2 linked regions of the Homo sapiens genome follow. The protein of the gene in region 1 interacts with the protein of each later gene in a biochemical or structural test. Each region holds a gene or a part of one and is shown in the gene's direction. Other genes may lie near its edges. The genes, in order: TRIB1 and ACACA.

The links.
Region 2: the proteins of TRIB1 (region 1) and ACACA form a complex in vitro, tested with the Homo sapiens proteins (one study listed by BioGRID).

The regions. Positions count from the first base shown.
Region 1 is NC_000008.11:125,433,197-125,438,921, forward strand, and holds the end of TRIB1 (tribbles homolog 1), read left to right. Parts: intron 1-120; coding exon 121-413; intron 414-2,809; coding exon 2,810-3,275; 3' UTR 3,276-5,207; downstream 5,208-5,725. UniProt on the Homo sapiens protein: Adapter protein involved in protein degradation by interacting with COP1 ubiquitin ligase. The COP1-binding motif is masked by autoinhibitory interactions with the protein kinase domain.
Region 2 is NC_000017.11:37,242,825-37,250,003, reverse strand, and holds part of ACACA (acetyl-CoA carboxylase 1), read left to right. Parts: intron 1-1,329; coding exon 1,330-1,411; intron 1,412-1,847; coding exon 1,848-1,993; intron 1,994-3,027; coding exon 3,028-3,178; intron 3,179-4,789; coding exon 4,790-4,924; intron 4,925-5,028; exon of another isoform or gene 5,029-5,203; intron 5,204-5,269; coding exon 5,270-5,416; intron 5,417-6,444; coding exon 6,445-6,633; intron 6,634-7,179. UniProt on the Homo sapiens protein: Cytosolic enzyme that catalyzes the carboxylation of acetyl-CoA to malonyl-CoA, the first and rate-limiting step of de novo fatty acid biosynthesis.

The DNA.
Region 1 (5,725 bases):
AATGGAACTTACTCACATCCTAAGCCCACAGGTTGAGAACTTCTGTTCAGCTCCCTCAGGGGTTTGGGAGGCTGCCTTTGCTTTTCTAGCCCCCTAAACGGGCCCCCCTTCTCTCTACAGGTGTTTCCCATTAAACACTACCAGGACAAAATCAGGCCTTACATCCAGCTGCCATCGCACAGCAACATTACTGGCATTGTGGAAGTGATCCTTGGGGAAACCAAGGCCTATGTCTTCTTTGAGAAGGACTTTGGGGACATGCACTCCTATGTGCGAAGCCGGAAGAGGCTGCGGGAAGAGGAAGCCGCCCGGCTCTTCAAGCAGATTGTCTCCGCCGTCGCCCACTGCCACCAGTCAGCCATCGTGCTGGGGGACCTGAAGCTTAGGAAGTTCGTCTTCTCCACGGAGGAGAGGTGAGCGGCCGCCACAGCTTCTCCTGTGGCCTTTTGGAACCAAAGCGGAGGTGCAGGTCATGTAGTTAGGTGCTGTGTGTTGGTGCAAAACAAAGTCAAGGGCTCATATGTCCCAGATTTAGTATTTAGAGCTTCTGTTCCTGAGGAGTCACAGCCAAGGTTGGTTTATTCTGCATTCTCTTGGACGGGGCCTGGGGACACCGTGGCGCTTCTATGGGATGGCAAGTGTTGACAGGGTGCTCTTCCTCTCCTACCCCAGGATCAGGTTCATTCCCCATTGTTGTCAGAAAGGTCAGTTGTCTGGGGTACAAATATTAAACTGCCCTTTACGATATTGCCTTCTGAAGGAAGTGTTCAAATCTTTGCTTATGCCAAGTGCTGTTTTGTACCTGGAAGGTTTCACAGAGCTAGTGAGACTGTCATATATGCAGAATTCCACCCTCTTGTTTCACACAGCATTCCTCTCCCATCCCAGTCCAGGTTCTCTGTAACATCACATTCTCTGGTGACTTTTTAGACAGCTTGTTTGGATCCGTCTTCAGAAAATAGCCACATTGAATAGTAAATGGAAGTTGGTTAGGATGGATTGCTAAATATAGATCATAGCTTACCTCATAAAGAACAAGATGAGCTTGATAAGAGAGTAATGAGGCATTAAGATTCAAAGCTGAGGTTTCAGCTAGAGAATTCAGGAAGCCGCATGAGATAGACCACACTTGATTTTAAGAGCCAGCCACATCCCTTGTGGAAAGATTACAAGCAGTAAGGCTGTAACATTGTAGAGGTGAGAGTGAGTTAGTTTGTTGTAAGAAGTGGGCTTATCTCACCTGTGCATTTTTACCTTTGACTCCAGAGCATATGAAACAGTACAGGGTTGAGCTGTCATAAAGCATGACTTTGTATCTGACCTCGCAATAATTATTGGAACACACTGATTAGCAAAGAAAAGCAAACTGTTGGCAATGAAGAAGTTTCTAATTCCTGGAACATGCTCCTTTGATATGGTGATGCATTTTCTGAAACATGCCTTACACACCTCCTTACTAGCTTTTGAAATCTGCATTGCACAGGCGAATATCATGGGCATGGGGTTTGGCAACCCGGGGGTTAAGCAATGTCAGGCTGACGCTATTCGTGTAACCAGCACAGGTGCAGGGTTTTAGTGCTGTAGCAGCCAATCAGGGGCAGACAGTGTGGGTTGAGTCATATTTTCCGTTTACAGAACCAATGGGTATTTTACATAACGACAGGGAGGTCACGCTGAGGACATACTGAAGTTAGCACATGTATACTACACTCCAGGGAACAGGAAGGCAGAAAAAAAAAAAAACAGACCTTTGAGAGGAAAAGGAATTGACCCATCAGCCAGTACCAAATGTTTGCATTTAACTTCACAAGTGACTTACTGAAACGGGTATTTCAGAGAAGCAGGCAGAGACAGGGTGTCACTGGATATCAGAGCTTCCCCACCACATGGCTTTGAGCTTTGGGGGATCCAGGAGACTTGGGTGGCTGGTTCTGAATAAGGAGGCACCTGCAGCTTCATAAGAGAGCCTTTGACTGAAGGTGTTTTAGACTTTCGTTGTTACCTGAACAGAGACCCCCCCTGTAGAATACATATGCTCACATGTTGATGTGCCATCCCAGGGGGAGTGTGTGTCCCTGTGTAAGAATTTCAGGGTCCCTGCGTCCCTGAAATCCATCAGCCACTTTTGTTTGCTCGCATAACCTCTCTGTCCAGGCAAAGTGTTCTTTGCAGTTAAACACCCCAATAAATGTAATTAACATTCCTTGCAACTTTCCCATCCTAATTGTTGCAGCCTGGGCCCAGGAGGACAAAGTTTGCTCTGTGTGCATGTATCAGTGTGGGCACCAGCGCTGATGACCTGTGTGTAATAGCAGTGACTTTGGGCTCCGTGTTCTGTAATGCAGTGTGGGTCCAGGTAGCCCTGGCAGTCATAAGAGGGAAGATGGGTTCGTAGGATGCTCAGGCCCTCTCTGAAGAAGTAGGATATGCTGCTCTTCCCTGCTAGCTTTTGTAGAGAATGCAGCATTCTGAGACAGGCTCCCAGTTCTGCAATGGGAACTTAGTAAATTGCGTAACTCCTATTAGGATATCTCTTGTAAGCTCCAGCATTATGAATACTATTTGGGGCTTTGCCTCATACCCTCCACCCCAGGCGCTCTGCCGATACTTTGCAAACATTTATTGCAGTTCGTGTTAGTTTGTGAAATCAGGAGCCCTCGGTAGTTGCAGGGCACTGCTTACTGGACGAAGGGGTAAATAGCATTCCTGGAGCCTTTGCTGTTAGTGCCTGTGGGCGCTGTTATTGGGAAGGCTTTGTTTTTCATAGCAGCTGGTGTGGAAATAATGGCTTGGTTCCTCTCTCTTGCAGAACCCAGCTTAGACTAGAAAGTCTAGAAGACACACACATAATGAAGGGGGAAGATGATGCTTTGTCAGACAAACATGGCTGCCCAGCCTACGTGAGCCCTGAGATCCTCAACACCACTGGGACCTACTCCGGAAAGGCTGCGGACGTTTGGAGCCTGGGGGTGATGCTCTACACCCTTCTGGTTGGACGATACCCCTTCCATGACTCAGACCCCAGTGCCCTTTTCTCCAAAATTCGGCGTGGACAGTTCTGCATTCCTGAGCACATTTCCCCCAAAGCCAGGTGCCTCATTCGCAGCCTCTTGAGACGGGAGCCCTCCGAGAGACTCACTGCCCCCGAGATCCTACTGCACCCCTGGTTTGAGTCCGTCTTGGAACCCGGGTACATCGACTCAGAAATAGGAACTTCAGACCAGATTGTTCCAGAGTACCAGGAGGACAGTGACATTAGTTCCTTCTTCTGCTAATCCCCAAAACCTCAGAAACCTCATAATTCTTAACACCTGGCATTTCCATTTCTAAAGATGGACAGGCCCTTTGGCGTGGTACCAACCAGATAATGACTGCATCAGGATGAAAGCTGCTGAACTCGGCATGGCGCCTCCTCTTCTCTGTTGGGATGAGTGACTTTATTGATTTGAGCAGCATATGCTGTGATTGGCTGCCCTGCAAATTTGTTTCCCTTAAGGAACCCTCACCAACTATCTCTGCTGGATTTGGGAGTTCCGCATCTTTTGTGGAGGGCAGAGTATGGACATCTTACACCCGGTGGTCAAGTGTGTAATAAACTTGAGCATTCGAATGGGAGAAAAAGCAAATCGCACAATGACATATTTTGAGTAATAACCGTATTTTTCACAGGGTGACAAATTGGGCCAATAAATCTGCCATCTTTGAACTCATCTTTGGTGGCTAGACTGCTACGGCAGCTTCTCTGATGGGAAAGTTCCTTTTTTGGCTTAACACTCACCCTTTCTTCACACTCACATTTACCAATGACTCTGCTCCGTTTTTGGAGCAGACTGTTTTAAGTTGCTCAGGAGCCTGATGGAACCATGAACCGAGACTCTTCTCTGTTTCCTGCCAAGACCTCATCTGCACTAATGCCTTCTCCCTGACCTTGACACTTCCCCCTTTAGCTATAAAAGCACTTACCAGCCGAACGTGGAACAGTATCACAAAAGATTCCATCTCCCAACGATTTCAGAACTCTGAGCTCAGAGAGACTCCAGATTTTAAAAAATAATTTGAGTGCTTGGAAACTATTAGCTTTTTAAGTTCCTTCCAAATATGTTAGTACCTACCCTTTACTTTTTCCCCAAGACCATCTCAGGGTGGAGCATTCTGTCTAAGAGAAGAAAGATAAGGAGGCTCCCACCCACCTCTCCCAAGAGCAGACATTAAACATCTTTGTGCTTTGAAGAGAGTGAATTTTGGATAGTCTTGTGATTCTCAGACTAACTTCCAGAATTATACTTTAACCCCTCCCAGATATGGTCCGCCTTTGGCATTGTGTGTACATCTGCAGTTTTGCATGGTGGGTTGTTAATATTTCAAATGTGTGGTTTATGAATACGTCTGTATAATCGGCTTCTGGAGTGAAACAGCAAACCCCAAATCTTCAAAGTTGGAAGGAACTTTAAAAATCATCCGGTCCAATCTCTTTCCTCTTTCTGCCACCTCCCAAGGCAGAAATCCCCTCTTCAGCTTCTTTTGTAGGTGGGAATCCAGCCTCTGTTAGATATGTCCAGAGATGGAAACTCACTCCCCTACAAAAGATGGAGCTTAATGGAGAAATTGCAACTTTCATTAAAAAACAAATTCAGATGAAATATCAGTAACTGTCTTGGACAGTGCTGAAATCAGGTGGTTAAACGGGTAAACAAAATATACTGTATTTTGAGAAATGGCACAAAAACAGGCAGTCATCTTTAAGGGCTATGCCTAGGCAAACTACTAACATGCATTGTGAGAATGCCGTGTATACCTCACGTACTGTGTACTTTGTACATATATTTTACCTTTTATACCTATGTTCGATTTTGTTTTGTTTTGTTTTGTTCTGGCTTTGAGGCTTGTTTTGTTGTCTGTGTCTGTCTGAATAACCTGCGTGTCTAAAACCACGTGAAATGTGAATGATTATTGGCAATATTACCTTGACAGAATCATGGGACTTTGAGAAGAGGGAGGACAGAGGCCTCTGTCGCACTAACGCTCTCGTGGTTGCTCGACTGTTGTATCTGTGATACATTATCCGACTAAGGACTCTGGGCTGGCAGGGCCTTCTGCCGGGAAAGCTAGAAACACTAGGTTCTTCCTGTACATACGTGTATATATGTGAACAGTGAGATGGCCGTTTCTGACTTGTAGAGAAATTTTAATAAACCTGGTTTCGTAAATAGGTGTGGTGAATTTCTTTCGAGTTCCATCTGCTTTGCCTTTTGCAATTTCATGCAGAGGTTGCAAAGGTCTCTGGCCTCAGGACTTACAGTCTAGTTGGGGGTGAGCAGCAAGGGGAAGGTGGAAAAGTAGAGATGATGAGGATCATCGATGACCTTTGGCAGACTTGAACCCATTTGCTTTTCTCATTTCAGTGGGCAAATTTATTTTGATGGATGAAGCCCATTGGGTGTTGATACGTGCTTTGGGTTGAATTTAGACTCGGGAAACATTTTTTATTTTTTATACTCTTTCATAGCAGAATCAGAATCAAGAAACGTTTGAAGGTGAGCATTCATAAATTAACCTTGAGTTGTAAAAATCAGCTTGTCTTTTTTGGGCCGTGGACCCTTGAGAATTTGATAAAGCTATGACCACTCCTGAGAACAGTGTCACATGTATAAAACAAAATTTTGTTATCATTGCAGAGGTTCACACAGATCTCTGAAGGCATCATGGGACTTCCGATTGTGAACCA
Region 2 (7,179 bases), on another chromosome or scaffold:
GTGGCAGCCAAGAGAGAAAATGAGAGCCAAGTGAAAGGGGTTTCCCCTTATAAAATGATCAGCTCTCGTGAGACTTATTCACTACCATGAGAACAGTATGGGGGAACCGCCCCCATGATTCAAGTATCTCCCACTGGGTCCGTCCCACACCACAAGAGAATTATGGGAGCTACAGTTCAAGATGAGATTTGAGTGGGAACACAGCCGAACCATATCAACATGCAATATTTGTTTCTTCCCACCTCCTGGTTTTTTAAAACTCAAATGGTAGCATGCTGTGAAGCTGTTATTTACCTTGCTTTTTTAACTCAACAGTATATTTTTTAAAGTGTTTTTTAGTTCACATCTTTTTAATGTCTGTATGTTTTGTTCCACATGTGAAAACATGCGCAACATCACTAATCATTAAGTAAATAAAATCAAAACCATGATGAGATACCACCTCACACCCATTAGGATGCCCACTGTCAAAAAACAGAAAATAGCAAGTATTGGCAAGTACGTAGAGAAATTGGGACACTTGTGCACTCTTGATGGGAATGTAAAATGATGCAGCCACTATTGAAAAATGGTATTGCAATTACTGAAAAAATTAAAAATAGAATTACCCTATGATCTGGTAATACCACTTCTGGGTATTCTGAAAGAATTGAAAGCAGGGTCTGAAAGATACTTGCACAGCCACATTCATAGGAGGATTATTCACAGTAGCTAAAAGATGGGAGCAACTCAGATGTTGGTTGATGGATGACTGGATAAACAAAATGTGGCATATACATACAATACAGTATTATTCAGCCTTAAAGAAGAAGGAAATTCTGACACATGCTAAAACATAGGTGGATCTTAAGGACATTAGGGCAAGTGAATTAAGCCTGTCACAAAAAGACAAATACTATATGGTTTTACTTATATGAAGTATGAAGAGTAGTCAGACTCATAGAACTAGAAAGTAGAATGACGGTTACCAGGAACTGGGGGGAGGGCGAAATTGGGAGTTGTTAATGGGTGTAGAGTTTCACTTTTGCCAGTTGAAAAAGTCCTGCAGATTGGTTGCAGAATAGTGTTAATATCCCCAACACTATAGAACTGTGCATTTTGTAATGGTTAAGATGGCAAATTTAATGTAATGTGTATTTTACCCTAATTTAAAAAAATCCATTGTAAGATTCATAATTGATGTGATCAATTCCTTACAAACGATCATTTAGGTATTTAGGTTGTTTCTAGTCTTTTGTTATTCTAGGAAATGCTACAATCAATAATGTTTTAGATTCTCTTATAACTGTTAGAACTTTGTAGTAAGTTCCTCTCTCATCGTTCTTTCAGGGGTCAAGTCCTTCCTGCTCATACACTTCTGAATACAGTAGATGTTGAACTTATCTATGAGGGAGTCAAGTATGTACTTAAGGTATGCAGAACCCCATTGGAGCTTGCACCTTACTTTTTTAGCTATCTTTCTTTAGGTTGAGAGGCAGGAGAAAAAGTTTGATTTAATGCAGGGATGGGGGTATTAGTGAAATTACCGTCATTATTTTTGTCAGTGTCCTGAAGCAGCGTTTGTTGTTCTATGAAAATCTTTTTTGTTGTTCTTCAACTTCACATACACTGCCAAGAGATAAAGGAGAGACAGAGAACAACCACAGTTGGGGAAAATCAACTAAGGTTGCCCTCTTTGCTTACAGCAGGACTGAGCCATGTCCACAGACACTGATGCAAATAGCATCAGTGCCATGAATTTTCTTCCTCCTGACAGATCTTTCTTATCTGTATTTTTGAAGCATTCAAATTTCATTTGGAGCTGTACCTGGAAGGGACACACTGATCCTCATTCTCATTCCCTACAGGTGACTCGACAGTCCCCCAACTCCTATGTGGTGATCATGAATGGCTCATGTGTAGAAGTAGATGTACATCGGCTGAGTGACGGTGGACTGCTCTTGTCCTATGATGGCAGCAGTTATACTACGTATATGAAAGAGGAAGTGGATAGGTAAGTGGCTGTTTGAGGTCCATTTGCTGGTCATCCTGTTAGCCTTTTCTCTTATTAGCTACTAGCTCTTGGGATTTTCCCAGGCTTTTCTTGGTACTCATTTGTAGTTAAAAAAAAAAAAAATAGTACATGCACTTAACAAAAATATCAAGAGTATTAAAGTGTTTATAATTAAAAACATGTCTCCCTACCACTCCAGTGTATGTGGACAATGAAAAATAAGTTCCCCTTTTTATAAGTAACCATTGTTAAAAGTTTCTTACATATTTGAGTAGAAATTTTATATGCATATACAAGTTACACTCATGTACATACTGTTTTTCTTTAAATACATTCACAAATGTGGCTGGGCGCGGTGGCTCACGCCTGTAATCCCAGCACTTTGGGAGGCCGAGGCAGGTGGATCACCTGAGGCTGGGAGTTCAAGACCGGTGTGGCCAATGTGGTGAAACCCTGTCTCTACTAAAAATACAAAATTAACCAGATGTGGTGGCTTATGCCTGTAGTCCCAGCTACTTGGGAGGCAGAGGCAGGAGAATCACGTGAACCTGGGAGGTGGAGGTTGCGGTGAGCCGAGATCACGCCATTGCACTCCAGTCTGGGCAACAAGAGCAAAACTCCGTATCAAAAAAAAAAGAAATTCACAAATGTTCAACACCAGTTATGGTGTTATGAGAATGAAATAAATTAACATGTTGAAAATGTGTAGAACATTGCCACAACATAGCTAGGCTTCAAGAAATGTTAGCTATTACGTCATCAATATCTTTGTGTGTGTTTTTTTAAATGGTGGTACCTGTTATTTTTAATAGTCATGTGGTATTCCATTATATGATTATACTATATTTAATCTGATCCTTATTGAAGGAAATTTATGTTAATTGACATTGTAAACAAATATGCAGTGAATATGTCTGTGTGTGTGTATAATAAAGTTTTCAGGATTTTTTTTCTTTGAAGGTTGACATTCTCTACCATTCTCCTTTACATCCTGAGGTGCTTTCTTAGCTTACATACTTCCACTTGTCTCCTAGATATCGCATCACAATTGGCAATAAAACCTGTGTGTTTGAGAAGGAAAATGACCCATCGGTGATGCGCTCACCTTCTGCTGGGAAGTTAATCCAGTACATTGTAGAAGATGGAGGTCATGTGTTTGCCGGCCAGTGCTATGCTGAGATTGAGGTCAGGGTGGTGAAAGGACTGTGGGATCATGGGAGGGGAAGGTAGGAAAAGGGTCGGCTGGGATGGACTAGGACTGAAAAGTTACAGAAAGGAGGCTGGGCACAGTGGCTTGTGCCTGTAATCCTACCACTTTGGGAGGCTGAGGCAGGAAGATCGCTTGAGCCCAGGAGTTCGAGACTAGCCTGGGCAAGATGGTGAGACCCCATCTCTATGAAAAATTAAAAAATTAGCGGCGTACAGTGGCACATGCCTGTAGACCCAGCCACTCTGGTGTCTAAGGCGGGAGGATCCCTTGAGCCCAGGAATTCAAGGCAGCAGTGAATGGAGATTGTACCACTGTACTGGAGTGGTACAATTTGTGGCCTGCGTCACAAATCAAGACCCTATTTCTAAAAAATTAAAAAAAAAGGTAACAGATTGGAAATAAGAATGAAAAAGAAACATCAGTTGGCTTAATTAGAAGTGCGAACCTTAAGATTTTTAAAACACATAGGCAAATGAGGAATCTCTAGTTCTAAAAATAGATACTAGGCAATAGCACTTGTTGAATGTTAGGTGTCCTAACTGCTGGCTATCCAGAGAAAATACATGGAGGTGGGGCACAAAACAGACAAGAAATGTCATGTGATTAATTTTAAGAGAGCTAAGCATAGAGTGCAGAGGGTCACCTAACCCAAATCAAGCTAAGCTTGTATGGGAAGATATTCTGAAAGAAGAGACATTTGATCTTAGTTTTGAAAGACAGATAGTGATAGAGCAGGTGAAGAAGGGCAGGGAAGAGTGCTTAAAGTTGAAGGAATAGCATGTACAAAGACAGAAGCAAGACAGCACAGTGTATTTAGGGAACTGCAAGTATGTGTTGGTGTGGCTTGAGAATAGACTAAGGTTTAATGGGGAGGGACAAGCAAAGGTGCTAAAGAAGTAATGTGAGATCTTGAATGTGAGGTTATGAAGGATCTTATAAACCATACTAGTAAGTTTTCACTATCCTGGAGGCAGCAGGTAATCTCTGAAAGATTTAAGTGGAAAAGTAGTATGATGAGATTTGGGGTCTAGGAAGATTGCTTTTCGTGACCTTGAGGGAGGTATGTAGCAAGTAGGGAGATCTCTTAGGGGGTCTTTGAAGTACTTTGGGCCAGAAATGAAGAAGGCGTAAACCGAAGAGTTGGCAAGAGAGGAAGATTTTTGAGAAAGGTTTAGAAGATATGTCTGGCTGGGTTGGTAATTGGTAGGTAAGGGAGAAAGAGGAGTGAAGAATGATCCTTAGGTTTTGGCCTGGTTGTCTTAGATTGGATTCACTGGTATGAGGATATTAAATTGTTCCTTACTTTCTAAGTACAAAACAAATATAATCACAAATTATGCCAAAATGGTTGTAAAAGTTAGAAAGGAGAAATGTCAATAACTGTTATTAATTCCTAAAGTGAGGTACTGAGAGATTTTCTAATTGCTTGCCTTGATAGTCCCTAGGAGATGATGGTAAATTCCCATTTTTTCTTGGTCAAATTAGGTGTGGTCCAACTTAGATGCTAAGGGAAAAATTTTAGTTCTTTTAAGCACTCATCTGTGTAAAGAGAGATAAATCTGAGTCTAGTTTATTTTTCACTATAGGTAATGAAGATGGTAATGACCTTAACAGCTGTGGAGTCTGGCTGTATCCATTACGTCAAGCGACCTGGAGCAGCTCTTGACCCTGGCTGTGTACTAGCCAAAATGCAACTGGACAACCCCAGCAAGGTTCAGCAGGTGAGTAGGAAGGTGCTCCGAATATTGCTCTCTAAGAGCTAAAGAACTTGGTGGTTTGGAGAGGCAAGTGATTTCAATGCTTGGTTTGCCAGTGTTTTCTTTAGCTTTGTCCCCTATTAATCTTATGCCTTGTATTTGTGCCTGTAGTATTATGGAACTAGAGTTTGCAAGAGTTACTGTAGTACTAAGATTCTGTAATTTCCTTATGATGTTTCCTCTATTGACTTCCCTCCTGGTAGCTGGGTATGATGTCTCGATTTTGAATGATAACTCTTAAGTGCAGTGGTGTGTTTGTACCTTAGATCAAAAGTAGTAGATGACTTGATCTCTTGTTGGGGTTGACAGGCTGAACTTCACACAGGTAGTCTGCCACGGATCCAGAGCACGGCACTCAGAGGCGAGAAACTCCATCGAGTGTTCCATTATGTCCTGGATAATCTGGTCAATGTAATGAATGGATACTGCCTTCCAGATCCTTTCTTTAGCAGCAAGGTATGTATCACGTCTCCTGGGGAAGGGATGTACAAATGGGATACCTATTCTCCAAAATAGTTCCAAGTCTCATAATGATTGTTTAAGAGGGAGGAAAAGAAAGCTGTTTGGCCTAGAACTCTTTCACCTTCAGTTGTGGGACTTGAGGTCTTTAAATCCATGTTTCTTATCCTTGTCATGGACTTCACATTTAATTGTGATTACTCCTTTTTTTTTTTCCTCGAGACGGAGTCTTGCTCTGTTGCCCAGGCTGGAGTGCAATGGCACAAACTCAGCTGACTGCAACCTCCACCTCCTGGGTTCAAGTGATTCTCCTGCCTCAACCTCCTGAGTAGTGGGGATTGTAGGCACGTGCCACCAGGCGCGGCTAATTTTTTTTTTTTTTTTTTAGTAGAGGTGGGGTTTCACCACGTTGGCCAGACTGGTCTTGAACTCCTGACTTTGTGATCTGCCCGCCTCGGCCTCCCAAAGTGCTGGGATTATAGGCGTGAGCCACTGTGCCCGCCCGTGATTAGTCCTTTTTAAACTGGAGAATAGGGGCAATGTTAGATGCTTACGTTGCAATTTCAAAGTACTCTATGATAGTTGGCTCACGCCTGTAATCTCACCACTTTGGGAAGCTGAGATGGAAAGATCGCTTGAGGCCAGGAGTTTGAGACCAGCCTGATCAACATAGCAAGACCCCATATCTATTGAAAATTATATAAATTTTTATTGAAAAGAAGTAGTATATGATAGTGAATTCAGATATAGTTGACTCTTGAACAATACAGGTTTGAACTGTGTGGGTCCACTTATATGTGGATTTTTTCAGCCAAACATGGATCAAAATTACAGTATTGATGAGATATGGAACCCACAACTATTTCTATACATGGGTTCCGTAGGGCTCAAGTATGTGCAGATTTTCATATATGAGTGGTGGTTCTGGAACCAATTTCCCACGTATACAGAATGACAACTATATATCTTTTTATTTGGGGGATTGTGTTAACTTGGGTCCTATTTTACCAATGCTTTCTTTCTAGGTAAAAGACTGGGTAGAGCGATTGATGAAAACCCTCAGAGATCCCTCCCTGCCTCTCCTAGAATTGCAAGATATTATGACCAGTGTGTCTGGCCGCATTCCCCCCAATGTGGAGAAGTCTATCAAGAAGGAAATGGCTCAGTATGCTAGCAACATCACATCAGTCCTCTGTCAGTTTCCCAGCCAGCAGGTATTTATAGGATAACACTATATTTTTTTCTGGCTACCAATGCCAGAGTTTATGTTGTAGGATTCCTTCCTATTTGGATCCTCCTTACTTTTTGGATGTTGTGCTTGTATACTTTTAAGCATTGTATTCCTCACAAAACTGCCTCAGGGTACAAACCCAACAGTGAAAGTACTGTATGTGAAGGATAAGTATCTGTAGTTATGAGAAAAGCACACTTGGATCATGTATACCTTATAGCTTTGTTCCTGGGGCTATTCCCTAATTAGAGGTATTTTCATGAATTGAAAATAGAGTGATATTAGTTGATTGATTGATTCATTCATTCACTCATTGATTTAGAGATGGAGTCTAGCTCTGTCACCAGGCTGGAGTGCAGTGGCTGATCTCGGCTCACTGCAACCCCTGCCTCCCGAGTTCAAGCAATTCTCCTGCCTCAGCCTCCTGAGTAGCTGGGATTACATTCACACGCTGCCATGCCAGCTAATTTTTGCATTTTTAGTAGTCACGGGTTTCACCATGTTGGCCAGGATGGTCTCGATCTCCTGA